Regions from separate parts of the Homo sapiens genome. Here all the other regions are linked to region 2. The links come from fine-mapping of genetic effects on gene expression. A gene starts in region 2. Each other region holds a variant in brackets. All regions are shown on one strand. Distances are from middle to middle.

The links. PIP is the estimated chance that this variant, and not a neighbour inherited with it, causes the effect. A credible set is the group of variants that fine-mapping cannot tell apart.
Region 1: its variant is the best candidate, but not a certain one, in a credible set for the expression of CLDN5 in whole blood (INTERVAL, PIP 0.78).
Region 3: its variant is the best candidate, but not a certain one, in a credible set for the expression of CLDN5 in whole blood (TOPMed, PIP 0.54).
Region 4: its variant is the best candidate, but not a certain one, in a credible set for the expression of CLDN5 in whole blood (TOPMed, PIP 0.65).

Annotation. Positions count from the first base shown.
Region 1 is chr22:19,328,689-19,336,161 of GRCh38, forward strand. It overlaps HIRA (histone cell cycle regulator), which reads right to left. Exons shown (of 25, transcript NM_003325.4): 25 at 2,010-2,868. The coding sequence ends at 2,752. It overlaps LOC105372859 (a long non-coding RNA gene), which reads left to right. Exons shown (of 6, transcript XR_938002.3): 3 at 1,287-1,392; 4 at 2,866-2,994; 5 at 5,014-5,055. Among named protein-coding and RNA genes, the nearest start is that of CLTCL1, 41 kb to the left of the region's middle. The variant T/C (reference allele first, on the strand shown) is at 4,633.
Region 2 is chr22:19,519,718-19,526,946 of GRCh38, forward strand. CLDN5 (claudin 5) reads right to left here and starts at 4,693. Exons shown (of 1, transcript NM_001363066.2): 1 at 3,310-4,693. The coding sequence starts at 4,538. The coding sequence ends at 3,882. It overlaps CDC45 (cell division cycle 45), which reads left to right. Exons shown (of 19, transcript NM_003504.5): 19 at 764-891. RefSeq lists an enhancer at 2,376-3,308.
Region 3 is chr22:19,549,583-19,557,378 of GRCh38, forward strand. No RefSeq gene overlaps it. Among named protein-coding and RNA genes, the nearest start is that of LINC00895, 13 kb to the right of the region's middle. RefSeq lists enhancers at 5,063-5,765, 5,766-6,468 and a silencer at 5,184-5,478. The variant A/G (reference allele first, on the strand shown) is at 3,943.
Region 4 is chr22:19,578,803-19,586,598 of GRCh38, forward strand. No RefSeq gene overlaps it. Among named protein-coding and RNA genes, the nearest start is that of LINC00895, 16 kb to the left of the region's middle. The variant G/A (reference allele first, on the strand shown) is at 3,670.

The sequences.
Region 1 (7,473 bases), 190 kb before region 2:
CCATGATCATGGCTAATTGCAGCCTTGAACTCCTGGCCTCAAATGGTCCTCCCACCTCAGCCTCCCATGTAGCTAGGTCTCCAAGCGCATGCTACTGTGCCCAGCATGGTATCCAGTGTCTTGAAACCACCATTGCATGTATTTTTGACGGGCTCCTTTGGTTGTTTCAGGTAGAAGGGTCAACCTGGTCCCTGTTACTCCATCTTGTCTGTAAGTTGAAGGCCTTGATGTTTTCTGCTTATCTCTTCATCATCTCCAAACGGTGGTGGTAAAGTCACTCACGACTGCTGTTTCCTTCAAGGGAGGAAACGTGCGAAGACTTTGCCCACACAATCTCAATTTGTCCTCATAACGTTGCAGATTTTTTTTTTTTTTTTTTTTTTTGAGACGGAGTCTTGCTCTGTTGCCGAGGCTGGAGTGCAGTGGCGCGATCTTGGCTCACTGCAACCTCTGCCTCCCGGGTTCAAGCAATTCTCCTGCCTCAGCCTCCCGAGTAGCTGGGATTACAGGTGTGTGCCACCACACCCAGCTAATTTTTGTATTTTTAGTAGAGACGGGGGTTTCATCATGTTGGTCAGGCTGGCTCGAACTCCTGACCTCGTGATCTGCCCACCTTGGCCTCCCAGAGTGCTGGGATTATAGGTGTGAGCCACTGTGCCCGACCCCAGTGCAGATTTTTTTAGTCTCAATCTCTATTTGACAGCTAAAAAACTGAGGCCCAGATGTTTGCTGGTTTGGAGCCCAGACAGGCCTGTTGGCATATATTGCTTCCTGGAGCTCCACAAAGCTCGCAATGTCTTGCTGCATAGTTGCTAAGGGAGCTGCCTCACCTGCACAGCAAGTCTCTGGCTCTTCATTCCTTAAGAGTCCCACTTGCAGCCTGGCTTTTTATGTGTACACACACACACACTCACACAAACTATCCTGGCTTTATTTGGCATGAACACATGCCTGGGTCTCATCCAGCCACTTGACATCCGAGTGAGACATGGAGTGGAATGGCTGCTAGGCCAGAGATCAGTGGTCAGTTACCCCGGCCTCTGACTCCAAGTCCAAGGCTCCTTCTCCAGGCTCAGACCCACACACTGGGTGGTGGTGACAAAGATCAGGACCCAGGAGTGGGTGGTACTCAGCCCTCACTGTGCTTAAAGATTCTGTGATTCTGTTTCTTCTCCTGTAGATCAACGTCTGGATCACTTTCTAATAAAATTCCAACTTTGCTGATAATTCTCCAATATACCCAAGACTGTAAATACTGATTTCCTTTCATGAAATTGTCCAAACAGCTGCAGCCCTTGGTGCACAGTATGATCTGGACCTGGGGCACAGCAAGACCAGAACCATGAACCACCATGAACCATGACTCCTCACTTGTGAGATGACGTGTGCAAGGTGACCTATGGTGCTTCATGACCACAGAAGTGACCACTCTACACTGTGAAATGAATTTCTGCATGGGGGGTATATTAGGGTTCTCTACAGGGACAGAACTAATAGATATATATGAAAGTTTATTAAGTATTAACTTACACAATCACAAGGTCCCACAATAGGCCATCTGCAAGCTGAGGAGCAAGGAGAGCCAGTTCGAGTCCCAAAATTGAAGAACTTGGGAGTCCGATGTTTGAGGGCAGGAAGCATCCAGCACGGGAGAAAGATGTAGGCTGGGAGGCTAAGCAAGTCTCATCTCTTCACATTTTTCTGCCTGCTTTATATTCGTTGGCAGCTGATTAGATGGTGCCCACCTGATTAAGAGTGGGTCTGCCTTCCCCAGCCTGACTCAAATGTTAATCTCCTTTGGCAACACCCTCACAGACACATCCAGGATCAATATTGCATCCTTCAATCCAATCAAGTTGACACGCAGTATTAACCATGACAGGGGGGAATGAGATGACACAAAGGATCCCTTCTGGCTCTCATGTTCTGTCACCATCTACTTCAGGAGAGAGATGCACTGTGTGGGGAGGATGAAAGTTAGAAGGAAAAGGCAAGAGAAATCAGGAGGGTTTGGTATTCAATGCGTGTTCATTTATTTTACACTTACAAAAGAAATCGCCCACCCCTTTGCCCCATTCCCCCAAAACAGTCTCTTTTTACAAACATTTAAAAATTAAAACCAAATGAAGATAGACAAGTTAATTTCAGTACAATTATTTTTCAGTGTAGCTGTCATAATTAGAGTTTAAATTTCCTACAAGTGACCAATGTCCAAGTGACTTATAGGGAAATCCTGATTATCGGCCAAAGGAAATTCAATATTACAAGTTAGCAAATTCTAGTACAAAAATAGTCCGTGTGTTGGAACAGCTTTCCTTTTACATAGGTCTTAGGTCAGTCTGCTGTAATACCTAACGCTTCCGGATTCTCTCTCACAAATGGCTCAATCGTCACTGCTGAAGCAGCATGGTGCCTGCAGCAGCAGGGGCTAGTGTCCACCTTGGGGCCGTGCTGGAGACGGCAGGCCTGGGACTGCCTTGCTGGCCCCAGGGCACCTGGGCAGAGCTCCAGCCCTAGCTCCGCATCGGGGGCTTGGAGGGAGGGATGAGCTTCCCCCTCCTGAGGCAATGTCAGACCCAGGACACAGGGCACATCTGCCCAGGGAGCTGGGCTGGCGCTGGTGCAGGACAGCACATCTCCTGCCAGTGTCTCCTCCCCCTACAGCCTGGTCAGGTGAGAGGCGGTCCTGCATGTCATCAGCGGCGAGAGTGTGGCCCTGCCCTTGCTGCAGCCAGGGCAGGCTGGGGCAGGCTACTTGTCCCTCAGGATGTCGAGCTGTTCCTGACACTCGGTGAAGAGGCGCTGGAATCGGAGGTTCTGCCCGATGACTGGTAGCAGCTCCTTCAGCAGCTCCCTCTTCCGCAGACCCTGTGGACACAGAGTGACAGCTGAGTGCAAGTGTCAGTGAAGAGACCTAGATTGTGGGGACTTTCCTGGCCTGGCAGAGAACCTTGTGTCTGCTCACGGGAGAAGGAAAGAACAATTCCTCTGCAGGTGAGAAACTGTGAGAGAGCTGTGGGGCAAATGTGCAGGATGAAGTGGCAGGTGGAATGGGAGCAACACAGTGTGGGGATAAAGGAGGATGAGGCCAATGCAGGGTCTGCTCCTCCATCCGTGGGCACAGCCACTGCTGACCTTATAGTGACTGAGCAGTTCCCTGACCATCCAGGGCAGGATGAGAGTAGAACAAGGCTGAGGGTCAGGTGGCTGGCCATTCAGGAGGGGCTGTTCCCTCATGCTGATGTTTGCCAGGGGTTTGAGGTCAAGCCCCAGGGCAAGGATGCACCTGGGGGGCAGTGACTGGCTTTAGTTTTCCAGCAACACAAATGAGGTGCCAGTATCCCCTGATGTGGAGGATGTTCGGATGCTGACCAAACTATGCTTAGTTGCCTAAACATCCTCCACGTCAGGTCATATTGGCACCACAGTCTGAAACAAGCATTGCCAGTTGGGGTCTCTGCTGCACAGACCAAAAGAGCAGACTCCTGAGCAGTACGGCTGCTCCAAAGGGAAAACTACCAGCCAGACAACTTTAACACTGGACGAGAAGGTCTAAGATCTTGAATTAACGGTGACAGATATACCTGCAACAAGTCTAGAAGTGACAGTAAAGAATAAGTGTAACTATTAGGTTTGAGTAACACAGAAGTTGTTAGAGATGGGATAAGCAGGAGAATGGCTGCTGTTGGCGACCAAGTTTGATGGAGGAGCAGCCCACACTCCAACAGGGAGGCTCTGACACCAGAGTGCCATAGTCAGAACAGAGATGGTATGGATTTGCAAAGGCTGAAATGTTTACTATCTGGTCCTTTACAGAAAAGTTTGTCAACTCCTAAAATAGATCATGTTTTCTAACTAAAATAATTGAGTAAAACTCATAGGTCAAAGGGGAATTCTAATTAAGTGAAATTAAAAATGACTTGCAAGAGAATGGTAAAAAAAAAAAACCAACACAAAATACTCCAAAAGTGGTAAGATTCAGCAAAAGTGGGCACTTTAGAGGCATTTAGAAACAACAGCTTATACTGTATTAGAGAACATGAAAGAATGACAAGCCAAGACTCCAACCTAAAGCCATCAGGGGAAAGGAAAAAAAAAAAGACTAAAGAAAAAAAGGACATGAGAAAAAAACATTTTTTTTAAAAAAAGGAGATAATAAAAATTGAAATAAATAAAATAGAAAACAAAGATTTAATAGAGAAGATTTAGAAAAACAATTTTATTTTATATATTTTTTTGAGACAGGGTCTAGCTCTGTTGCCCAGGCTGGAGCGTAGTGGTGCAATCACAGCTCGCTGCAGCCTCAACCTCCCAGGCTCAAGTGATCCTCCTGCCTCAGTTACCCGAGTAGCTGGGACTATAGGTGTGTGCCACCATGTCTGGCTAATTTTTATATATTTAGTAGAGCGGGGTTTCACCTTGTTGGCCAGGCTGATCTCAAACTCCTGAGCTCAAGTGATCTTCCTGCCTTGTTCTCCCAAAGTGCTGGGATTAAAGGCGTGAGCCACTATGCCTGGCAAAAGTCATTTCTTGAAAAGACTAATGGACAAACGTCTGGCAGGATTAATCAAGAAAGAGAGAGAAAGCTTAAAGAAATAATATTAGAAATAAAAAGAGACATAACTACAGATA[T/C]AGAAGAAAGAAAAAGATATGATTACTATCAACTTTATGCTAAGAAATTTGAACATTTAGAGAAAATGGAGAAATTCCTAGAAAAATATAATTTATCAAAACTAGCTCAAAAAGAAATAGAAAGGAAAAGTTAATTATTACCATAAAGAAAACATCAGGAATACTATTTTAAAACTGACATCAAGGATGAGATTTTCTTTGTCTTTCCTTTCCCACAGTTTGACTAATGTGTCTCAGTGCAGGTTCCTTTGGGATTTTCCTACTTAGAGTTCACTGAGGCTCTTGTATTAGTAGACCCCCGTCTTTCCTCAAATTTGGAAAATTTCCGCCAGTATTTCTTCAAATAAGCTCTCTACTCCTTTCTCTCTCTTACACTTCTAGAACTCCCATTATGGATTCATGGGTATACTTGGATGGTGTCTGGTAAGTCTCTTAGACTCTGTTTGCTTTTCTTCATTCTATTTTCTTTTTGCTCCTCATACTTGATAATTTCAAATGACCTGTTTTCAAGTTTGCTGATTTACCCTTTTGTCTATTCGAGTCTGCTGTTGAACCCTTCTAGTGAACTTTTCAATTCAGTTATTGTATTTTTAAACTCCAGATTTCTGTTTAGCTCTTTTTTTGGAATTTCTATCTCCTTGTTGATACTCTCATTTTCTTTTTTTTTTTCTTGAGATGGAGCCTCGATCTGTCGCCCAGGCTGGAGTGCAGTGGTGTGATCTCGGCTCACTGCAAGCTCCGCCTCCTGGGTTCACACCATTCTCCTGCCTCAGCCTCCCGAGTAGCTGGGACTACAGGCGCCGGCCAGCACGCCTGGCTAATTTTTTTGTATTTTTAGTAGAGATGGGGTTCCACCATGTTAGCAAGGATGGTCTCGATCTCCTGACCTTGTGATCCGCCCGCCTTGGCCTCCCAAAGTGCTGGGATTACAGGCATGAGCCACTGCACCCGGCCCTCATTTTCTTCATATATAGTTTTCCTGATTTTGTTTAGTTGTCTGTATTCTCCTTGAGCATTTTTTAAGACATTTATTTTAAAGTCTTATGTCTGATGGGCACAGTGGCTCATGCCTGTAATCTCAGCACTTTGGGAGGCCAAGGCGGGCAGATCGCTTGAGGCCAGGAGTTCGAGACCAGTCTGGCCAACATGGCGAAACCCCATCTCCACTAAAAATACAAAAATTAGGCCAGGCGCGGTGGCTCACGCCTATAATCCCAGCACTTTGGGAGGCTGAGGCGGCTGGATCACTTGAGGTCAGGAGTTCGAGACCAGTCTGGCCAACATGGCGAAACCCCATCTCCACTAAAAATACTAAAATTAGCCAGTCCTGACCTCAGGTGATCCACCTGCCTTGGCCTCCCAAAGTGCTGGGATTAAGGCATGAACCAACGCACCCGGCAGTCCTTTTACTTTTAAGCCATTGTGTTATTACATGTAAGCTGGGTTTCTTATAAGCAGCATACAGCTGGTTGTTATTAATTCTAATCTGATAATCTATGCCTTTTAGACCTATATTTAATGATTATTGATATATTAGGGTTTAAATCTACCATCCTATGTATGTTTTTCTGCCTTCTTTTGAATGAATGTATTATTTTCTATCATTCAATTTTATCTATTTGTTAGTTTTTTAGCTACGATTCTTTTTACTGCTTTGGGATTTGTATGTGTATGTGCATGAGTTTTATTTTTTGGTTTTGGTGGTTGCTCTAGGGCATATAACATACAGTATATGCCTTTACTTATCATAGTCTGTCTTCAAGTATTATATCACTTTGCATAATGTGTAAAAATCTTTTAATGGTATACTTTCATATCCCCACTCCTGGCGTCTGTGATACTGCTGTCATGCCACTTCACTTCTACATATGTTATAATTACAAACTACATTTTCATTATTTGGCTTAAAAAGGCAGAACTTTTTGACTTTTTTTTTTTTTGAGACAGGGTCTTGCGCTCTGTTGCCCAGGCTGGAGTGCAGTGGCGTGATCTTGGCTCACTGCAACCTCTGCCTCTCAGGTTCAAGCAATTCTTGTGTCTTCGCCTCCTGAGTAGCTGGGACTACAGGCATGTGCCACCACACCCGGCTAATTTTTGTATTTCTAGTAGAGATGGGGTTTCGCCACGTTGGCCAGGCTGGTCTTGAACTCCTGGCCTCAAGTGATCTGTCCACCTCGGCCTCCCAAAGTGCTGGGATTACAGGCGTGAGCCACCGCGCCGAACGAGAACTTTTTTACATTTTGACATTTAGATGAACACTTTTGACATTTAATTCTTAACCCTTTGGAGGTATATTTTTATGAACTGAAGATCTGCTTTTACTTAGTTACATATAAATAACCAGTTTCCTAAACTCCATTTATTGAATAGCCCCCCCTATTTTTCCCACTGTATCTGTTTTGTCTTCTCTCTCATATAGCAAAGTATCTAAATTACTCCGGCTTCATAATAAACCCAAATATCTGGTAGCATAGTGAATGTCTTAACTATTCTTGGCTTTTTACTGCTCCATATAAATTGTTGAATTAGCTTGTCAAGTTTCATTGAAACCTCTAGTGGGCATTTGATTAGAGAGGCATTGAGTCAGTAGGTCTGTTTAGAAACGGTTGGCGTCTTTTACTGTACTGCACTTTCTCATCGTTTGTCCAGGTTTTCTTTAATGACTTTAAGTAAACGTTTATAATTCTTAGCATATAGGCTATGTACATCCTTTGTTAGATTTATTCTTAGATACTTTATAATTCTCAAAAGAGACAATCTTGAAAGTGGCAAAAAAAAAGTGACTCATGAGAGGGATTTGAAGTTTGTGAAGAACTACACGCACAATTGCTGGCTTAAAGA
Region 2 (7,229 bases):
CCATCCCTCCAGGGGCAAGCACCTGTTCTCCTGTTGGGGCTGGAGTGGGGGTTTCTGCTGACAACAGCATAGGGGGCCTCAGGGACCCCACAGTTCCTCTCAGGGTGGCCTGGGCTACATGGGGCCCATTTTGGGCGCGGGGCTCTGAGTCAGACCCTCGGGGTTTTTGGCAAGTTCTGTAGGGTCATCAGCAGTGACCTTGGGCCAGCCACCTAATCAGGCTTAGCCTGTTTCCTCATCCAAAAATGGGGCCCACTCTCTCCTTAGACGATGAGTGTGAGCATCACAGGACTGCATAGGGTGGGGCGGAGGCAGAGGTGGGGCTCTCTGGCAGTGGAGTGGGTGCTAGAGGCAAACCCCTCCCCTGCAGCCTGCTTGGTGGTGATGTTATGCTGCTGTGTGTCCTTCCACTGAGGCAGGGGCACAGGTGGCCTGGGCTAGGAGGGCTGAGCAGCAGAGTGCCGAGGGATGGAGGGAGAGCCCCCATGGGAGGGTGCCAGGGGGCTGGCTGAGCAGCTGGGCGGGGTCCGTGAGGTAAGAAGGTGCCCGGGCCAGGGGGCAGGAGCTCTGATGTAGGACAGCTCAGCCCAGTCAAGGGGTGCTATGAGGACAGCAGGGGCCTCCGAGTCTGGGGTGGCCTCACCCCCACAAGCAGTCCTGGCTACTCAGCAGCACTACCCAGAGGGGACGCCTGGGCAGTTTCTTCAATTCGGTGGCACATCAACATCGTTTGAAACTTGTTTTTTCTTGTTTTGTTTTCTAGAATTTGATTCTTCCAGAATGACCTTCTTATTTATGTAACTGGCTTTCATTTAGATTGTAAGTTATGGACATGATTTGAGATGTAGAAGCCATTTTTTATTAAATAAAATGCTTATTTTAGGCTCCGTCCCCATTGTGGCTCTGGTCTCGAGGCCAGTGCTTGAGTGTGCTCTGAGCCTTCTGTGGGTCTTGGGCCCCAGGAGCCCTCAGTGCCTGGCAGGAAATCAGCATGGGGATTGGCCCCAAGGACAAGATCTCCTTACTCTGTCCTCCAGGCCCTCCGGGTGGCAGTGGACAGAGGTCAGGACCCCTCGGCATCCCCGCCTCCTCATAGCACCTGCACCGGCCACTGCCTGGTGGTGCCAGCCAGCACCTGGCTCTGTCCACCTACCACTTCCTCTGGTCCACCTGGCCTCAGCCACATAGCAAGTCCACCCTCTCAGCCATCCCTCCACCTGTGGGTCTCACCATCCAGCACTCTTTTCCAGGTCTTTGAAGGCAGGAGTGATTTGGGTAGGTTTTAAGTCAGTGGGGAAAAGCTCAGAAAGAGTGGCCTGGAAAAGAGCACACAGGTAGGTGGGGCTGGTCTTGGTGCAGCCCTTGGCAAAGGGCAGTGGGCACAAAAGGGTGAGAGCTGGACTGGAGGCTGGGCCCCTCCCCTCACCTCTGGTGGTTTGCACAGCTTCCCGGGACCCTTGAGCTGCCTACCCTGGCCATTTGGGAAAATTCAAAGGCTGTGCAGCTTCCTTTCCATGCCCTTTCTTTCCTTTTTTTGAGACAGAGTCTCGCTCTGTCACCAGACTAGAGTGCAGTTGGTGCGATCTCGGCACACTGCAACCTCTGCCTCCCGAGTTCAAGTGGTTCTCCTGTCTCAGCCTCCCGAGTAGCTGGGATTACAGGCACACACCACCACGCCCAGCTAATTTTTGTATTTTTAGTACAGACGGGTGTCACCACGTTGGCCAGAATGGTCTTGATGTCCTGACCCTGTGATCCGCCCACGTCGGCCTTCCAAAGTGCTGGGATTACAGGCGTGAGCCACCGTGCCCAGCCCCGTGCCTGTCCTTTCTTAGGAAAAGGCTTTCTTAGGAATGCCCTCCCAGGCAGCCTTGGGCCTCAGCTTCTGACCAAACACACCAGACCTGGTACTACCCAGTCCCGGTGGCCAGGTGCAAGAGTGTAAGGACCATTGTTTTTGGCTCTGCCCAGGGCCACAGCTCTGGGATCACACACTCCCAAGCTTGGGGACTATTCTTGGTCCCTGTTGTACAGGCCCAGGTGGGGTACAGGTCAGGCCTGCTGAGGACCTCTGCACCGTGGGGCCCCTCTCCCTGTAACTCATCCCACCGGCTGGTTCCACAGCAGCTCCCAGGAAGCTGCCACACATTCCAGCAGCTGCCCTAAGCCACTCTGAGCCTGCATTCTTGGGGTTCTCCCACTGCTCCATGATGGTAGCCTGGCCAGACCTAGGAGACTCCCTGCCACTGGATGTGGCCCAGACATTTCTGGGCAGGGCCCCCAAGTCCAGTTTGGGGCAGATACCAAGTCTCCCTTCCGGCTGGGCTTAGAGCTCTTCCCTGCAGCATGCCCCCTTCATCAGCTGCTCTCTTCTGCTTCTAGCTTTATGTCAAATGTCAAAAATGTGTTAATTCAAAGTGCCTAGAACAAGGCTAAAAACAGTGAGCTCTCAGTGGCTATGTTAGATGGCTCTAGACACCCCCATTCCGAGGTGCCTGGCAGGGGCCAGCACTGACTCCCAGGCCACACAGCCCCTGGAGGAGGAAGGTTACCCAGAGTGCCCCCAGCAGGGGCTGGCACAGGTGCTGGTTGTGAGCACCATTCTGGGCAGGCTGCCAGGCCAGCAGGGTGGGTACAGGCTCTGTAGGGAGCTGCGCTGGGACTGGCAGAGGAGCCAGGACGAGGGGCTAGAGCCAAGCTGTGGTACTCCAGGCAACCAGCTGCCAGCACCTCCTCCCATGGCAACCCTACTGTTGACCGGCGTGTCCTGCATTCACCCCTGTTCCTGCCCCACCCACCATTGGAAAGGGCCTGGTCGGGGATTCTACAGACCTCTGTGGCCACTTGATGGGGCTTGGGACTAGGCAAGCCCTGAGAGGGCAGTGGAAAACCTCACCCTGTGCTGTGTGGGGCTTGGCCCTTTCTGGGAGAAGCCAGCGGCCTGGCTGCTCACCCCCAGCACTTCCCACACCGCAGGACCCCCACTCACCAGCCTGTGTTGAGGGCGCTTCACCCCGCATCTTCTGCTGGGGTCTGCCGCTGCCCCCGCCCCTGTCCCATCCCGGGCCCCAGGGCCCCATGACGCAGCAGCTCTTCTGACCGCAGATCCCGCCTTTCTGGGCTGTAGTAAGTGGTGGCTGTGTCTCCCACCTGGTGGGAAGGTGGCAGGGAGGATGGGGAAAAGAGCCCCAGCCTCCAGCCCTGGGAGGAGGTCTCCACAGGAGTCCTTGGGAGGGCGGGGCTGGTGGGTGATGAATGGGGCTGCTGGACACGGAAGATGGCTGGACAGAGAACAGGACACAGGTGGGAGAGAGTTCAAACCATTTACTAAGCAGATTCTTAGCCTTCCCACTCCCGCCCTCTCTCAAGCTCCGGTGCCCACAAGCCTTGCCTGGGGAGATGCTGGAGTGAGACCGGGAGGTCCAGGCCAAGTCACTGGTCCCTGGGCTCGGGCCCTGCCGATGGAGTAAAGACCAGCTGTACACATCTTCCGGTGGGGGCCCTGGGCTCTGCATCCGCCCCTCCGAAGTCAGCAGGAGCCTCTGGGAAGTAAGGCAGCAGCCAAGACCCCCAGCGTCTTGGAGGGGAAGCGAAATCCTCAGTCTGACACCCGCTCTGCCTATGGAAACAGCGCCGCGCACAGAAAAGGAAACTTCATTCCGTCTGTTAAGGGCAGGGCCGGGCTAGTGGCAGGAGAAGGTCAGCTGCGGGCGCAGGCAGGAGCGGATCCAGGAGCCGCGTCGGGGCGCAGAGCCGGACGTTCCGAGGAGCCTGCGCGCCGCGCTACCCGGCGGAAGCCGCGGTCCATGCGGGGCTCCCCAGGCTTATCCAACGCCTCGCAGGCGTGGCTGGCAGGAGGGGCCCGGCCGTGCCCAGCGCCCTCAGACGTAGTTCTTCTTGTCGTAGTCGCCGGTGGCCGTGGGCCGCCGCGGCGCTGAGTACTTCACGGGGAAGCTGAGGTCGGGACGGCCGGTGCAGACCCAGGCGCCGCAGCACAAGAGGCAGCCGCCTACCATGAGCAGCGCGGTGGCCGCCCAGCCGATGTACAGCGCTGCGCCCAGCTCGTACTTCTGCGACACGGGCACAGACGGGTCGTAAAACTCGCGGACGACAATGTTGGCGAACCAGCAGAGTGGCACGAGCGCCAGCAGCCCGCAAAACAGGTAGAGCACGCCTCCCGTGAGGGCCACACGCGCCTTGGCCGGGCCCGGGGCCACGCAGGTGGTGCACTGCGCGCCCGCCAGGGTCACGAAGAGCGCAACGAACGCCAGCAGCACGGCGCTCACGGTGAGCGCCCGCGCCGCCTGCACCTCGGTGCTCAGAGCCAGCACCGAGTCGTACACTTTGCACTGCATGTGCCCGGTGCTCTGCACCACGCACGACATCCACAGCCCCTTCCAGGTGGTCTGCGCCGTCACGATGTTGTGGTCCAGGAAGGCGGTCACCTGCCACATGGGCAGCCCGCACGCCAGGATCAGACCCCCCCAGCCCACCAGGCACAGCACCAGGCCCAGGATCTCCAACGCTGCGGACCCCATGGCTAGAGGCGAGACGCGCACCCGAAGGCCCGCAGAACCCCCAAGGCCGTGCTGCGCGGCGCCCTGGGCGGGCCCTGGTGCCTTTGCGCCCGCGCTCCCGGCTCTTGGCCCCAGTCCGTTTGCCCCGCGGGTCTGTCGCACCTCCTGGGTCTGCCAGCTCCTGCCGGGGGGTACCCTCTTTGAAGGTTCGGGGGCGGATTCTGTCCCCCGGGCCCGGCCCCCCGGCCCGAAGCAGCCAATCCGTGCGCGGGTCATCGTGCCGCAGCCAATCACAGAGCCTCTGGCAGCTGAAGTTAGGGAAACAACGGCTCTTGAGGGGTAGCTGAGGGCGCGGGACCGCTCCCCGCCCGGCAGCCGCCCCCAGCCCCACCCGCCGTTGTCCTAGTCGCGGCCGAGCGCATTCTGGGCTGGCCTAGGGCGCGCTTCTTGGGCCGCCTCCCTGCGCGTCCCGGCCCCGTCACTTCAGAAGGCGCTCGACCCCCAGTCTGCACCACCCAGTCCACTCCCACATCCCCGACTGAGCCGGGTGGTCTCTTCCACTCGAGCCAGCTCCACTTCCCTGACCAAGGTTTGCAGAAGCCCCCCACCCCGTCACCGCCGTAGAGGCCCTCGTAGGGGGGCTCTCCAGAAAGCCCGCCCCGGGGTCCAAGCCCCACCCAGGCCCTTTCTCGCACTCTCACTCTCCAGCCCCGCTCTGAGTCCCAGCACTGTCTCTCTCATCCCATGGCAAACAGAGAGGCCAGGCAGGCGTGTGGAGGTCAGGCCCAGGGCCCCAGCCTCACCCCCCATGCCACTCACTGCCTCTCTGGAGCCTGAGTCTCTGGCAAAAAGCGGTGGCACAGGGGCTTTCCCCCTGCCTGGCGACCCCCACTCTCCCAAGCCGCAGGGGCTTCCCAGACCTCTCAATCTTCACAGGGGCTGCTCCTCTTCCTGCGGTACTGCCCGCACCCCATCCTTGGGGGCCCAGTTCAGGTGACACCACTTCAGGAAGTTCCCAGTGACCCAGCACACTGGGTGTAGCACCCAGGGGCAGTGGTGGCCCCAGGCCTAGCAGCCTGCTCTGGCCTTCAGACAGGAGAGACAAAGGGACACGGAGGGGCTGTGCCCTGCCCTCCCACCAGTGGCGATGGTGTCCCTGGCACCCCAGCCCCCAGGCCACCCTCCGGAAGCCAACTTGGAGTTTCCTGGCCAGGAGGAAGAGCCCCCATCCTTGCTGGAGGAGGGAGGCGCGGGATTTCCGGGCATTCTTCTGCACAATGGCCCAGCCATTTCTCGAAAGGTCCACTGGTGTGGACACTCCGGGCCCCCTGAGGCTCAGGTGGGGGCACGCGGCTCCAAAACCCACAGCCCCATGGGGGCACCAGCCCCTTTCTAGTAGTTCTTTCCCCAGTCTCTCTCGGCCCCTTTGTTTCCAGTAAAGTTTGAACTCCAGGCCCTGGACTGAGGCCACTGGGTGCCCAGTTCTTTTATCTGGTCTGTGCTCAGTTCCATTGGACAGGGCCCTCCATAGAAAAAGTATGGCACTGAGGCTGGTCACAGATGTGGGAGGTTTGATGACTTTCTCCCTCCTGGGGCCCGGTTCCCTTCTCCCCCTTCAGATGGCTCTGAGATGGTAAATGAGATAAGGCCAGCGTCTGGCTCACCTAGTGTGGGGAGGTTCTGAAGGCAAGTGTGCCCAGCCCTGAGGCTGGAAGGAAATCATACCCTCTTTGCTCAGCCCCACGTGGCCTCTCCCCACCAGGTATGGCTCTGAGGACCACTGCCTTCTCCCAGCTATCACTTTAGTCACTGCCTTCCTCCTGCTGCAGACCCATGGGCCATGCCCCTTCCTCTACAGACCCTCCTGGACATCTCCTCCTCTGTGTACTCCAGGGGTACAGCTGACCCACCCACCCTCTCACTCTTACTACCCCCTAACCCAAGCCCAGGGAACTTCCCCAGATCCCCCTACTCCCAGCCCTTCCATGCCACCATCTTCCTGGGATGACTGCTGCGGCCTCCTCAGGTCATCAGGGACCTGCCCTTGCCCAGCTAGGCCACCCACCCCACCAGGCCCCTCTCCTGGGCCTCACCCTACCTAAGACCCTCCATGGCTCACATTGCCCATGGACGAAGAGCCGACTCCCAGAGCAGCTGGATTGATGTGTACCTGCATGCGCTAGGACTGGCCAGTCCAGCCACCAGTCTTGGTGCGGCCCTGAGCACACACTCTGCCCCAGGAGACTTACCTGCCTATGGGCCTCACATGGGCCGTCTCTTACCTTGGCCTCTTCTGCCCGCAGCGTGTATCTGTCAGGTTGGGTCCTGCTCATCTTCTAAGATGTGTTGCCGAGGTCATTTCCAGGAACACCTTGCTGCACCGTCCCCCAGCATTGCTTTTAGAAGCTTGAGCTGGACCTGTCCTTTTGCTTGCCGACTTTCCCACCTAGTATCCAGGAATAACCTCCACAGGGTGGCTGTCTTCATGCGTCTGTCCTGCACAGGAGGCTGCCTGTTGCCCTCTAGCCAGCTTGGAGCTGCAGCCAGCCCAAGGCTCTCCCTTCTCACCTGGCTGCCTGTTTTTCTTCTCTCCTAGCTGTCACCCTAGGGTGGCCCCAGCAAGCTCATGTTTCTTTGGCGGCAGCCTCACAGCATCTCAGGGACGTGGCAGAGGAGTCTCAGGCTTCACCTTTCACAATCTGGTTTCTACCC
Region 3 (7,796 bases), 30 kb after region 2:
GGCTGTAAGGTGGCTTGTTGGACGGACCCGAGTCACTGGTGTCACTAGTCCCTGAAATCACAGCATCTCCACTGCTCTGACAATGACAGGTTTAGAGGTTAGGCCCCAGCCTGCTGGGTATGCATTTCCTTTAGTGCTGGAGATGGACTCAGAATGCGTATGTGACCCTATGTGGGCCAGCAATTGGCCAGTGCAAGATTGCTGGGGATTCTGGGACCGGGGTCCTTATTTTCAAGATACAGCCATGTGAAAAAATGGCTCCTACCAACACACGAAGAGGGAAACTCCGCACTCCTATTGCTTGGCAGCCATCCTTCCATCACTAAGGGAACCAGCCTTAGGATAAAGCTGAGGGGTGGAGCAATGGAAGGTACTCAGGTTTCTATCACAGTTTTTGTTTGTTTGTTTTTTGAGACAGAGTTTTGCTCTTGTAGCCCAGGCTGGAGTGCAATGGTACGATCTCAGCTCACTGCAACCTCTGCATCTTGGGTTCGAGCGATTCTCCTGCCTCAGTCTCCCAAGTAGCTGGGATTACAAGCGCCCACCACCACGCCCAGCTAATTTTTTTGTATTTTTAGTAGAGATGGGGTTTCACCATGTTGGCCAGGCTGGTCTCAAACTCCTGACCTCAGGTGATCTGCCCGCCTCAGGCTCCCAAAGTTCTGTGATTACAGGTGTGAGCTACTGCGCCTGGCCCCAGCTAATTTTTATATTTTTAGTAGAGATGGGGTTTCACCATGTTGGCCAGGCTGGTCTTGAACTCCTGACCTCAGGTGATCTGCCTACCTCAGCCTTCCAAAGTGCTGGAATTACAGGCATGAGCCACTGCGTCCAGCCTCTATGATGGTTCTGTAAAGCCTGTAAGCTGAACAGCCCTGGAGCCTGCCTTACCTCTGAACATCCACTGGCATGAGCCAATAAATTGCTATATTAAGACCGTTCTAGTTGGATTTTTTTCCTTTTTTTTTTTTTTAGACAGGGTGTCACTCTGTCACCCAGGCTGCAGTGCAGTGGTGTAATCATAGCTCACTGCAGTCTCAAACTCCTGGGCTCAAGCGATCCTCCTCCTTCAGCCTCCTGAGTAGTTTGGACTACAAGAACGTGCCACCACACCTGGTGAATTTTTAAATTTTTCTTTTGTAGAGACGAGGTCGTGCTATGGTCACCCCGGCTAGTTTAGAACTCCTGGTCTCAAGTGATCCTCCCACATCGGCCTCCCAAAGTGCTGGGATTATAGGCATGAGCCACCATGCCCAGCTGTTTCTTTCCTTTTTAAAACATTTTTTATTGAGATACAATTCACATAACATAAAATTAATCACTTTAAAGTTTATACTTCAGTGGCTTTAGTATATTCACTATGCTGTACATGCATCGCCACGGTGTAATTCCAGAACATTTCCATTTCCCCAAGAGAAACCACAAATCTGTTGGCAGTTATTCTCCACTTCTCCCCACCCCATGCCCTAGGTATCCACCAATCTACTTTCTGTCTTCGTGGATTTGCCTGTTCTGGACATTTCATAGAACTGGAATCACACAGCATGTGGGCTTTTGTGTCTGGCATCTTTCTCTCCGTAGATTTTCCTATTCTGGACATTTCATAGAACCGGAATCACACAGCATGTGGGCTTTTGTGTCTGGCGTCTTTCTCTCCATGGATTTGCCTGTTCTGGACATTTCATAGAACCGGAATCACACAGCATGTGGGCTTTTGTGTCTGGCATCTTTCTCTCCGTAGATTTGCCTATTCTGGACATTTCATAAAACTGGAATCACACAGTATGTGGGCTTTTGTGTCGGGCGTCTTTCTCTTAGCACAGTGTTTCCAGGTTCATCCGCGCTGTAGCCTCATTCAACACCTCATTATCTGTGACGCTAAATAATATTCCTTTATTCTGTTTATCCATTTACCTGTTGGTGGTCATTTGTGTTGTTTCCATTTTTGGGCTATTGTGAATAGTGCTGTTATGAACTTTTTTTTTTTTTTTTTTTGAGACAGAGTCTCGCTCTGTTGCCCAGGCTGGAGTGCAACGGCATGATCTTGGCTCACTGCAACCTCTGCCTCCCGGGTTCACGCCATTCTTCTGCATCAGCCTCCTGAGTAGCTGAGATTATAGGCGCCCACCACCATGTCCAGCTAATTTTTTTGTCTTTTTAGTTGAGATGGGGTTTCACCATGTTGGCCAAGCTGGTCTCAAACTCCTGACCTCAAGTGATCTGCCCACCTTGGCCTCCCAAAATGCTGGGATTACAGGCGTGAGCCACCGCACCTGGTCGATTACTATAGTTTTGTAGTAAGTTTTGAAATGGAGAAGTGAGTCTTCTAACATTGTTCTTGTCCAAGACTGCTTTGGTTCTTTCTGTGTCCCTTGCAGTTCCATATGAATTTTAGAATCAGCTTGTCCATTTCTGGAAAAAAAAAAAAAGCTGTTGAAACTTTGATAGGTATTGCATTAAATCTGAAGATCTTAATGTTAAGTTTTCTAGTCCACGAATATAGAATATCTTTCCATTTTCTTTCAACAATGTCTTGTAGATTTTTTATAGCAGCCTTGCACTTTTTAAATTAAATTTATTTCTAAGTATTTCAAGACTATTCTTTTGATGCTGTATTTTCTTAATTTGATTTTCAAATTGTTCATTGCCAGTAGATAGAAATGCAACTGGTTTTGTATATTAATCTTGTATCCTGCAACTTTACTAAACTCACTTATTAGCTCTACCAGTTTTTGTGCAGATTCTTTAGGGTTTTGTTTGGTTTTGTTTTGACAGGGTCTCACTCTGCCACCCAGGCTGGAGTGCAGTGGCATGATCATGGCTCACTGTGGCCTTAATCTTCCAGGCTCAGGTGATCCTCCCACCTCAGTCTCCTGAGTAGCTAGAACTACAGGTGTGTGCCACCATGCCCAGCTAATTTTTTGTAGAGATGGGGTTTTGCCAGGTTGCCTGGGCTGGTCTTGAACTCCTGGGCTCAAGCAATCCACCCACCTCAACCTCCCAAAGTGCTGGTATTAAAGGCATAAGCCACCATGCCCAGTTTCTTTAGGGTATTCTTTATACAAGATCATGTCATCTGCAAATGGAGTTTTACTTCTTTCTCTCCAATCTAGATGGCTTTTTGTTATTTTTTCTTGTCTAGTTGCCCAGCCTAGAATTTCTAGTACAATGTTAAGTAAGTGGCAAGAGTGGCCATCTTTGTCTTGTTCCTAATCTCAGGGGTAAGGCTTTCAGTTTTTTACCATTAAGTATGATATTAGCTGTGGGCTTTTCACAGATTCCCTTTATCAGACTGTGCGAGTTCCCTCCTATTCCTAGTTTAGTGCATGATTTTTATCACTAAAGGGTATCCTGACTTTGTTAAATTTTTTTTTTTTTTTTTTTTTTTTGAGATGGAGTTTCACTCTTGTTGCCCAGGCTGGAGTGTGTGATCTCGGCTCACTGCAACCTCTGCCTCCCCATTTCAAGTGATTCTCCTGCCTCAGCCTCTTGAGTAGCTGGGATTACAGGCACCCGCCACCACGCCCCACTAATTTTTTGTATTTTTAGTAGAGATGGGGTTTCACCATGTTGGTCACGCTGGTCTCAAACTTGTGACCTCGGGTGATCCACCCGCCTTGGCCTCTCAAAGTGCTGGGATTACAGGCATGAACGAACCACCACACCCTGCCTGTTAAAGGTTTTTGTCAAATTCTTTTGTGCCTATTTAGATGACCTTGTGGTTCTGTCCCTTTATTCTATTAATATGATGTATTACATTGATTAGGTTCTGTGTTTTAAACCAACCTTGCATTCCTGGGATAGATCCTACTTGGTCATGGTGTACAATCCTTTAACATGTTGCTGAATTTGGTTTGTTAGTTGTTTGTTAAGGATTTTTGAATCCAAATTTATAAGGGATATTGGTCTGTATTTTTTATTGTGATGTCTTTGTCGGGCTTC[A/G]CAGCATAAGTCAGTAAGTGTTCCCTCCTCTTCTGTTTTTTGGACACATCTGAGAAGTACTGGTGTTAACCCCTCTTTAAACATTTGGTGGAATTTGCCAGTAAAGCCGTCTGATCCTAGGCTTTTCTTGCTAGAACTTTCTTTCTTTTTTTTTTTAACTAGTAACTCCAAATTCATCAAATTTGGGAAGATTTCAGCCTTTATTTCTTACTAAGAATGAGGCATTTCTCTTGAATGTTTTCCTCATGTTGCTACAAACCTTTTTTTGTTTGCTTGCCCTTTTTTTTTTTTTTTTTTTTTTGAGATAGAGTCTTGCCCTGTTGCCCAGGCTGGAGTGCAGAGGCATGATCTCAGCTCATTGCAACCTCTGCCTCCTGGTTCAAGCGATTCTCCTACCTCAGCTTCCCAAGTAGCTGGGGTTACAGGCATGCACCACCATGCCTGTTTTCTGTTTGTTTGTTTTCTTTGTTTTGTTTTGTTTTTTGTATTTTTAGTAGATACTGGATTTCACTATAAGGCTGGTCTCGAACTCCTGATCTCAAGTAATCCACCCGACTCGGCCTCCCAAAGTGCTGGGATAACAGGCATGAGCCACCATGCCTGGCCTGCTGCAAGCCTTTTAATGTCCAGAGCTATTTTTAAAAAGTTGATTTTTGAGTTTTTTCCCTTTTTTCATTGTTTTTTGTGGAGGGGTGAAATTTGTATTTCTTCATCCTCCATCTTCACTGATGTCCTTCCTTAGCTGGGTTTCTGATAGGGCAGACAAAAATGCCCCAACTCCTAAGACACTTATTTAGTTATAAGGATGATGGTTTTCAAACTTTAGTGAACACAATTAACTAGGGGAGACTATTATAAATACACATTCCTAGGTCCCACCACAAATTCCAATGAGTTTGTCTGCGGCCTGGGAACCTGCATTTTGAAAGCACTGGATTACAAGATCTAAAAGTAATGAACAAATTGAGAGGTTGAGAGGAGGAGAGGTTGTCTAAATATGTTAACTTCACATTGATTTCATACAATAGAGCCAAAAGAAACTACACAGTTGAGAAATCAAGATGTGGGTTGTATGCTTTAGAATTACGAAGGCAACCACTGTAAGAATTAGAAACAAAAATAGTTAAGACAGGCCACCTTCAGGGAATGGAGTTGGAGTAAGACAGGGCAATTTTAAATTTTCTTTATAGTTTGAGCTTTCTTTCTCAAATACAGCTGTTATCTTTATAATAAAACAAACACAAAAATGACAAGAAAATCAGTAAAAGGGGACTATTGGCCAACAATTCTGTCTTCCCTTCCCAGTGCCTCTGCCAGTGTACTCATCCATCCACCAGCAGCTATGGCCCAGGGGCGTGCAGCCTGGCTCCTCAGAATGGCACATGGAGCTGGGCTCCTCCCAGGAGCCACATTCCTTCCCACCTCCCCCCAGAGGCAGGCATGGGCAACTGAATGCAAACAAGATGAAGAGGAAGGACACTGTAAACTAAACAATTGTTAGCTTCCAGACGCAGCCACAACCTGGAGTCACAGAGCCCTCCTGGACTCAGGGCCAAAAGAGACCTACACAAGGTCACATAGTGACCCAGTCCTTCCCAGAACCAGTAGTCTTTGGAGCTTAAAAACATAAGCATAGGCCGGGCAGGATGACTCATGCCTGTAATCCCAGCACTTTGGGAGGCCAAGGCAGGCAGATTGCTTGAGCTCAAGAGTTCGAGACCAGCCTGGGGAACACGGTGACACCCCGTCTCTACTGAAGTACAAAAGAAATTAGCCAGCGTGGCGGCGTGTGCCTGTAGTCCCAGCTACTGGGGAGGCTGAGGCAGGAGAATTGCTTGAGCCAGGGAGGCGGAGGTTGCAGTGAGCCGAGATCGTGCCACTGCACTCCAGCCTGGGTGACAGAGTGAGACTCTGTCTTTAAAAAATAAAATAAAATAAATAAGCATAAATCTAAAACACTTTGCTTGGAAGCTGGCCTCAGGCTTAGCTTATACCATGAATTCATCTGCCAACTGTTTCAGAGGTCTGGGCAGAAGGGCTGCCCAGCAGGAACCAGAGGTCTGGAACAACCAAGTGGGGATGGCTGATTCTGAGGGAGGGATGGGCATGTGACAGTGTGCCCTCTGAACTGTGGGGGAATGTGGCTCCCCCGACCCCTGGGCTCTGGGGGGCTGTTTTCTGGGTGAAGGTGATCCAGACTGTTCAGGCCAAAGCCCCAGTGCCAGAGACTCATTGTCCCTCCCACGGTGGAGATGTTCCTCTCTCAAGGTGTCCTGCATTAGCATGGGACGTTCTCCTCCACTCCACCGTGCCTGGAATCCATGTGGGCAAGGATGAGGAGGGAAGCAGCTGTTAGTGGGAAGTGAGGCTGTGGGACTCCAGCGTTCTGGACAGTCCCAGCCCGAGGTGACACTACTCTGATGTGCTGAGTGGCTGACTTGGTAGGGAGTTAGTGTTTGGAGGTTTTCTCACAATTCCATGAGAATCCAGGGCAGGCCATGATAGTGGGGAAGGCTTTCACATGACGCAGCACTGGAGCTGGACCTGCTGGCTGGGCAAGCTTCAGACACAGGAGGGTGGTGGCATATCCTTTGCTGTAACAGGCAGAAAATATAATGATGTGACATGCCCCACCTGGGCCCATCTTGCCTCTGGCCCTGCAGGCCTTCTGAAACCAGCTCTAGGAGGCCCAGGGAACCCCACAGGCAACACCAGATTTGACCCCACCAAGGAGGCCATGACAGGTCCCAGTCCACAAGATGAACACTATGCTCTTTAAAAAGAACTCCTGTCTTAGTTGGTGTTAGTTCCCAGCCAGTGAAGTCACAATGATGGTAGCAACAGGTACCATCACCTGGCACCTGCTGAGTGCCAGGCATGGTTCCCAGGGATGCACACACACAACGCTACCCCGCAGCCCCAGCCATCCATGTACCCCTGTGGAAAGGAAGGCACAGAGACACATCACGGGACTTGAGAGTGGCAGAGTCAGGATCTAGGCGGGCAGTCAGCTCCAGTGGGGGTTCACAGCCCCTCGCTACTCTGCCGTTACCTTCATCCATGACAATGTGACCAGTCATCTCTGCAGCTGCAGGGGCCAGTAAAGTGCGAGACTCCTAATTCCAGTGCATATTTGCTGAATGAGAGAATGAAAATGTGTACCCACATACCTCAGGTACCTACAACAGACTGTCATTATAACTGCAAGAGACAGAGTGAAATTAATAGACACCGACATGTCCTCAGCAATTCCAACAAAACAAATAGTGACAAGTACCCAAGTTAGTATGACCTACTAGTCTCCAAATCATAGTAACTGGTGGTCAAAATGAAGAGGCAGGACATTCCACAACAGTGTGGACGCACCAAAGGAATGGGCAAAAACACACACCTCCTTCTTCTCAAAAGTATGTGTACTGGTTTTCTATGGCTGACATACAAATTATCATAAATTTAGCAACTTAATACATCCTAGCACTTTGGGAGGCCAAGGTGGGAGGATCACTTGAGCCCAGCAATTCGAGGCTGCAGTGAGCTATGGTCAAGCCACTACACTCTAGTCTGGGCGACAGAGTGAGATGTTGTCTCTAACAACAACAACAAAGCCCAGTTCGGGTGGTAAAGGTGGCATTTCATAGCGATGGGATGGTGCAGGGTGATCCTGGCAGGGCAGGTGATGAGAGTGTGGAGGCAGAGCCTGGGAAACCTCCATGTCAATATGATCACAGAAACAAGGAGCGCTCCATCGCAACTGGGGCAAAGTAGAAAACGCACTGAGGGACTGACCTGATGAAGGTGGAGGGTGCGAAATGCAATCCAAAGTAAAGAAGAGATGAGGGTGCAGAAAATTATGG
Region 4 (7,796 bases), 59 kb after region 2:
ACCCTGGCCGCTCGGTCCCCAGGAGACCAGGCATGCTCCTGCCACAGGGCCTTTGCACTGGGTGCTCTCTGGGTCTGGAACAGGCCCCACACCCACTCACTTCCCCCAAGTCTGCTCAGATGCCACTTCCACACTTCCTAACAAAAGGAAGCTGTTGGTGAGCAGATGCTCAGTAACTTATGTGTGGCCAGAAGGAGCGAGTGGCTCCAGCCTGCGCGTGGAAAGCTGGCTCTCCTGGGTCACTGCTCTCACTGAGCCTCGGGTTTCTGCTGCCCAGAGGACTGCGTGGCTCTTTCTTGTACCTGGCAGTTCTGACACTGCTGGAATTGGGAAGAAAAGGGACCCTGAGACTAGGTCACTCCCTCCTGGGGTCTCAAGGGGCCCTGTCCCTGGGGCTGGAGGCTGAGCTTCCTCCTCCTTGTCCCCACCCTGGGGATGGCCTGTGTTCTGTCTTCCTTGTGCTCACCACTGGCGCCTGTTGGCTGAGGCAAGAGGGCCTCCAGCTGGGTTCTTCCTGTCCTCTAGTTGGTGCCTGAAGGCCCCAGTTGGGTGGGGTCTCTCTTTACCCTCTGGTCATATAGCAAACTGTGGCTGGTGTGTGGTGAGTCAGCCCTGTGTGCAGGCAGGGTCCCATTTCCCTGTGTGCAGGCCACAGTCTGTCCCAGTGCCTGCAAGGCCTCTGCCCCAGCTGGCCTGGACCCCCCTTGCCAGACTCTGCTCTTTGTGGGGCTCTGCCCACATCTACTGCCCAGTAGGACGCCCAGTCTCCACTGCTCTTTGGAGGTAAAAGAGGGCCTGGCACACTGGCACGGGGTACTTTCCCAAAGGTCAAAGATGTGTTGAGTGAACGAAGGTAGAGAGTTCATTTCTGAGACCTTTGCTGGCCTAATTCAGCTCAGTGGGGTGAAGTTATTACTGTTGAGATGCTTGCTGTTTTGATTGTCTTTAGAGAGCATTCTTAATATTTGGATGGTTTAAAATACCAAGGAGAAAAAAGGGAGGAGAGGCTTCTTTTTTAAAAATACCAACTTCATTATGAAAACACACAAATGTACACACAAATAGAATAATATAATGACACCCCTCCCACCACCACACGGCCTGTTTCAGTCTGTGTCCACAGCGAGGCTTCTGAAGGAAAGGCTGTGGAGGGGGTGAGCTGGTGGAGCCCATGTTCTCCCGGGCCTGGCCGGGATGTGCTTGCCGCTGTCACAGCTCCCCCATCTCCACCCGTCACATGACATCGAATGAGGCCGGCCTGGCTCTAGCCACTGCACAGGTGTCCCGTGGTCATTTCCTTCCTGTGCTGCTGAGGCACACAGTCACCCGTTTGCAAACTCTGAGGTGTTTTCCCTTTTCCCATTTCCTGTCACTGTTTTGAAGCTGTGAGAGGAAGAGAGAGACCTCGATCTGATAACCATTCATTTACTATCAAAGTTGGGGTCACATCCTTATAAGAACGTGTGGCTTGAGGTCATGAATAGCAGTAATGCGAGGGAAGCTAAGATTCTGGCAGGATGCAAATGATCTGGGAGTTTTCATTTTGTCGTTATGTATGGGCTGTTTTCTGCTGCATTGTTAACTATTGGAAAAGATTTTCCATGGATTATTATATGGATTATAGAGGAAAATGCAAATCTCCAACCTCTATACATTTAATCACTTAAATGAAATGTCAAGTTTTCTTGTTAAGAATTATGGTGCTGACTGGAAGAACAACATGGCTTTAAATATGACTTATTAGTTTCTTTCCACTTCTAAAGTTCAAAATAAAACATCATAGGTGGCAAAACAAATCAAGGTAAAATACGTTTTGAAAAGTCATAACTTTACTCAACAACAAAAAATAAGAAATAGACAGAGGACTTGAATAGACATTTCTCCAAAGAAGACATACAAGTGGCCAAGAAGTACATGAAAAGATGCCCAACATCACTGGTTATTAGGGAAATGCAAATCACAGGCATTAGGATGGCTATTATCAAAAAAAGCCAAGCAAAACCAACAACAGAAAATAAAAGCATTGGCAAGGATGTAAAGAACGTGAAGATGTGGAGAAATTGAACGTTGGTTTACTGTTGGTGGGAATGTAAAATGGTGCTGCCACCGTGGAAAAGTTTGGTATTTCCTCAAAAAGTGAATCAGAGGCCAGGCGCGGTGGCTCACGCCTGTAATCCCAGCACTTTGGGAGGCCGAGGTGGGCAGATCACGAGGTCCGGAGATCAAGACCATCCTGGCTAACACGGTGAAACCCCATTTCTACTAAAAATAAAAAAATTAGCTGGGCGTGGTGGTGGGCGCCTGTAGTCCCAGCTACTCGGGAGGCTGAGGCAGGAGAATGGCGTGAACCCGGGAGGTGGAGTTTGCAGTGAGCCGAGATAGCGCCACTGCAGTCCAGCCTGGGCTAAAGAGCAAGACTCCGTCTCAAAAAAAAAAAAAAAAAAAGTGAATCAGAATTACCGTGTGGTCTAGGAATTCCACGCCCAGAATAGGCATGCACTGAAAAGAATTGAAAGCAGGGACTCAAGACACTTGTGCATCGATGTTCACAGCAGCATCATTCACGCTAGCTAAAAGGTAGAAACAATTCAAACATGCACCGACAGATAAATGGATAAGCAATGTGGTCTACAGACATGGACAATGGAATATTATCCAGCCTTAAAGAAGGAACTCTGGCCGGTCACGGTGGCTCATGTGTGTAATCCCAGCACTTTGGGAGGCCGAGGCGGGTGGATCACGAGGTCAGGAGTTCAAGACCAGCCTGGCCAAGATGGTGAAACCCTGTCTCTACTAAAAATACAAAAATTAGCTGGGTGTGGTGGCAGGTGCCTGTAATCCCAGCTACTCAGGAGGCTGAGGCAGAGAATTGCTTGAACCCAGGAGGCAGAGGTTGCAGCAAGCCAAGATCATGCTACTGCACTCCAGCCTGGGTGACAGAGCAAGATTCTGTCTCAAAAAAAAAAAAAGAAGAAGGAATTCTGACACATGTTACTACATGGATGAATGTTGAAGCCATGCCCGGTGAAATAAGCCAGTCACAAAAAGACAAATATTGTCTGATTTCACTTATATGAGGTATCTCTTATATAAGGTAATCAAATTCATAGAGACAGAAATTAGAATAGTGGTTACCAGAGGGTGGGGAAGCAGGGAATGGGAAGTTATTATTGAATTAGTATAGACTTACAGTTTGGGATGACAACAAAGTTCTGGAGATGGATGATACTGATGGTTGTACAACATTGTGAATGTGCTTACTGCCACAGAACTGTACAATTAAAATGATTAAAATGATCCTTTTGGCCAGGCGCGGTGGCTCATGCCTGTAATCCCAGAACTTTAGGAGGCCGAGGCAGATGGATCGCGAGGTCAAGAGATCAAGACCAGCCTGGCCAACATGGTGAACCCCATCTCTACTAAACATACAAAAATTAGCTGGGCATGGTGGCACGTGCCTGTAATCCCCGCTACTCGGGGGCTGAGGCAGGAAAATCGCTTGAACCAGGGAGTCGGAGGTTGCGGTGAGCCGAGATGGCACCACTGCACTCCAGCCTGGTGACAGAGTGAGACTCCGTCTCAAAAAAAAGGATCCTTTTGTGCTGTGTATATTTTACCACAATTAAAAATGCAGGAGTTAGTAAAGGAATGGAACAAGATCATGTGAAC[G/A]TGAGTTATGAGAATACTGGAATGGCATCCGGCAAAGCAGACTCAGAACAGGACTGTTCCTAGAGATAGGGAGGACTGTTTTATGCGGATAAAGTGGTCAAGTCATCAAGAAGACATTATGATCCTAAATATGTATGCACCCAATACAGAGCAAAAACTGACAGAACCAAGAGAACAAATAGACAAATGCGCAGTTATAGCTAGAGATTTCCACACTTCTCTCTCAGTAAATGACAGAACAAGGAGGCAGAAAATCAGTTTAAGAATGCAGAATACTGCCTGGGTGCGGTGGCTCACACCTGTAATCCCAGCACTTTGGGAGGCCAAGGTAGGCAGATCACTTGAGGTCAGGAGTTTGAGATCAGCTTGGCCAACATGGCAAAAACCTGTCTCTACCAAAAATACAAAAATTAGCAAGGTGTGGTGGTGCATACCTGTAATCCCGGCTACTTGGTAGGCTAAAGCAGAAGAATTGCTTGAACCCGGGAGGTGGATGTTGTAGTAAGCCGAGATCACGCCATTGCACTCTAGCCTGGGCGACAAGAACAAAACTCCATCATGACAAAAAAAAAAAAACAACAACAACGACAAAAACTAGCCAATTGAGTTGGGCACAGTGGCTCACGACTGTAATCCCAGCACTTTGGGAGGCCGAGGCAGGCAGATCGCTTGAGCTCAGGAGATGAAGACCAGCCTGGGCAACGTGGTGAAACCCTGACTCTACAAAAAATCCAAAAAATTAGCCATGTGTGGTGGTGTACACCTGTGGTCCCAGCTGCTTGGGAGGCTGAGGTGGGAGGATCACTGAAGCCTGGGAGGTCAAGGCTGCAGTGAGCAGAGATCGCGTCACTGCACTCCAGCATGGGTGTCAGAGTGAGACCCTGTCTGAAAAAAAAAAAAGTCAGTTGAATCTAGCAACAAAAAAAAGGATAGGCCATGGACAAGTAGAGTTTATCCCAGTAATGCAACATCAGCTTAACATTTAAAAATCAATATAATCCTCCATATTAACACAAAAAAAGTAGGAAAACACTATCAATAAAGAGCAGAAAACTGATGGTACAACAAGTGGATGAATCTCACAGGACTTATGTTGAATGAAAGAAGCTGGACAAAACAGTATGCACTGTGATTCCTTTTATAGAAAACTCTAGAAAGGACAGATCTCATCTAGAATGATGGAACACAGATGGGTGGTTCCCTGGGTCCTGGTGTGACCAGGAGGAGTCATGAGGGAAGCTTCTGGAGTGATGGGATGTTCTTGGTTTTGACTGTGATGATGGTTACTTACACAGGTATACACATTTGTCTACATGCATTGAGCTGTATACTTTTATTTTTTTTTTTGAGACAGAGTCTCACTCTGTCACCCAGGATGGAGTGCAGTGGCACGTCTTGGCTCACTGCAAGCTCCGCCTCCCGGGTTCACGCCATTCTCCTGCCTGAGGCTCCCAAATAGCTGGGACTACAGGCATGGGCCACCACACCCGGCTAATTTTGTTTTTGTATTTTTAGTAGAGACGGGGTTTCACCATGTTAGCCAGGATGGTCTCGATCTCCTGACCTCATGATCTGCCCACCTCGGCCTCCCAAAGTGCTGGGATTACAGGCGTGAGCCACCATGCCCGGCCTAAGCTGTATACTTAAGATGTGTGCACTCTCTCGTATGCAAGCTGTACATCAATAATATTGATTTTTAAAAATCCTTTAACTGAGGTAAAACACTGATGTACAGTGTAGTTATTCTGCATTTTCTGAAATAACCATAGTTTATATCAGAAAGAATAGGGAGCTACAGAAGATACAGAATAGTGCATATAAGTTGCTACTTTTTATTGATAAATTTTTACATGTTTATGTGGTACATGGAGTAGTTGTTACATTACACATTACAGAATATGTAATGATCAACTGAGAGTATCTGAGGTATCCATCACCTTGAGTGTTTCTTTCTTTTTTCTTTTTTTTTTTTTTTTGAGAGGGAGTCTTGCTCTGTCACCCAGGCTGGAGTGCAGTGGCACGATCTTGGCTCAATGCAAGCTCTGCCTCCCGGGTTCACGCCATTCTCCTGCCTCAGCCTCCCGAGTAGCTGGGACTACAGGCGCCCGCCACCACGCCCGGCTAATTTTTTTTTTTTTTTTTGTATTTTTTAGTAGAGACGGGGTTTCACTGTGTTAACCAGGATGGTGTTGATCTCCTGACCTCGTGATCTGCCTGCCTCGGCCTCCCAAAGTGCTGGGATTACAGGTGTGAGCCACCGTGCCCGGCCTTGAGTATTTATTTCTAAGTGTTTGTAATGAGGTAGGAGGCAGGCGAGACTCAACTCCGGACCAGATTGAGGACTGGCCAAAACTAGGAAGAAGTGCACAAAGGACCTCTCCATAAGACATGCCCACCAGTGCCATGACAGTTTACTATTGCCATAGCAACACCCAAAACTTACCACCCATTTTCTAGCTGTTTCTGAATAACCTGCCCCTTAATTAGCATGGCACTAAAAGTGGGTATAAGATATGACTGCAAAACTGCCCCTAGGCTGCGACCCTCAGCACACTGCCTATGGGGTAGCTCTGCTCTGCAGGGGCAGCCAGCCAGAGCTATAGCACTGCCTCCACCGCAAGAAAGCTGTTTTCTTCCACTACCAGCTTGCTCTTGAATTCCTTCCTGAGGAAGCCAAGAACCTGCCCTGCATCAGTAGCATTTCAAGTCCTCTCTTCTAGCTGCTCTGAAATATGCAATACATTGTTGCCAGCTACAGATACCCTACTACCCTGCTATGGAATGTTAGGGCTTATTTCTTCTACCTAACCATATGTTTGTACCCATTAGCCAACTTCTCTTTATCCTCCTCCCACCCACACATGCTTCCCAGCCTCTGGTATCTATCATTCTATTCTCTCCCTCCATGACATCAACTTTTTAGCTCCCACATATGAGTGAGAACATATGGTAGCTGTCTTTCTGTGCTTGGCCTATTTCACTTAACGTTATGATCATCGGTTCCATCCATGCTGCTGCAAATGACGATTTCATTCATCTTATGGCTGAATAGAATTCCATTATATATATATTTATATATATATATATATATATATATATATATCTATCTCACATTTTCTTTATTTCTTCATCTGTCAGTGGACACAGTTTGATTCCATATCTTTGCTGTTGTGAATAGGAGAGTGCTACCACTGTTAAAGGATCTATTTACATACATGCTTATAAATAAATGCATCCAGGATTTTTGTAAAGATCTATCATTACTTTCACTCTTTTGTAGCTTTTGAATTTTTTCATCATGTGCATCCACTTCCTAAAAACAAAATTTCTTTTTTTAACTTTTCTTTTCTTTTTCTTTTTTTTTGAGGCAGGGTCTCATTCTGTCACCCAGGCTGGATTGCAGTGGTGTGACCTGAGCTCACTGCAACACGTACCTCCTGGGCTCAAACAATCCTCCTACCTCAGCCTCCTGAGTAGCTGAGACTACACACTCATGCCACCACACCCAGCTAATTTTTGTATTTTTTGTAGAGATGGGGTTTTGTTATGTTGCCAAGACTGCTGTCTAACTCCTGGGCACAAGCAATCTGCCTGCCTTGGCCCAAAGTGCTGGGATTACAGGCATGAGCCACCGCACCCAGTTGTGTTTTTTTGTGTTTTGTTTTTGTTTTTGTTTTTGTTTTGAGACAGAGTCTCCCTCTATTGCCCAGGCTGGAGTGCAGTGGTGCTGAAACAGGAAAAGTTCCCGTGTCCCCCTCGCAGGGCAGGCGATGGGGGTGTGGTTCGCTTCTTCAGTGCCCCACTGCTCAAACCGCTAGGGGAGCATACAGATGGGCAGGCTGTGGGGCTCCGGCCCCAGGGCAATGTCTAGGGGTTAATGTTTACAGCCAGGACCCAGTGGGCATGTGCTACTGTTTGCTCTTTTAGTTTTGCTGTCTATAGGTGGCTTTTGTTAACCAGTTCAATTAGACCCTCTAGGCCTGGCATGGTGGCTCATGCCTGTAATCCCAGCACTTTGGGAGGCCGAGGTGGGCAGATCACTTGAGGTCAGAAGTTCAAGACCAGCCTGGCCCAACATGGCGAAACCCCGTCTCTACTTAAAAATACAAAAATTATCCGGGTGTGGT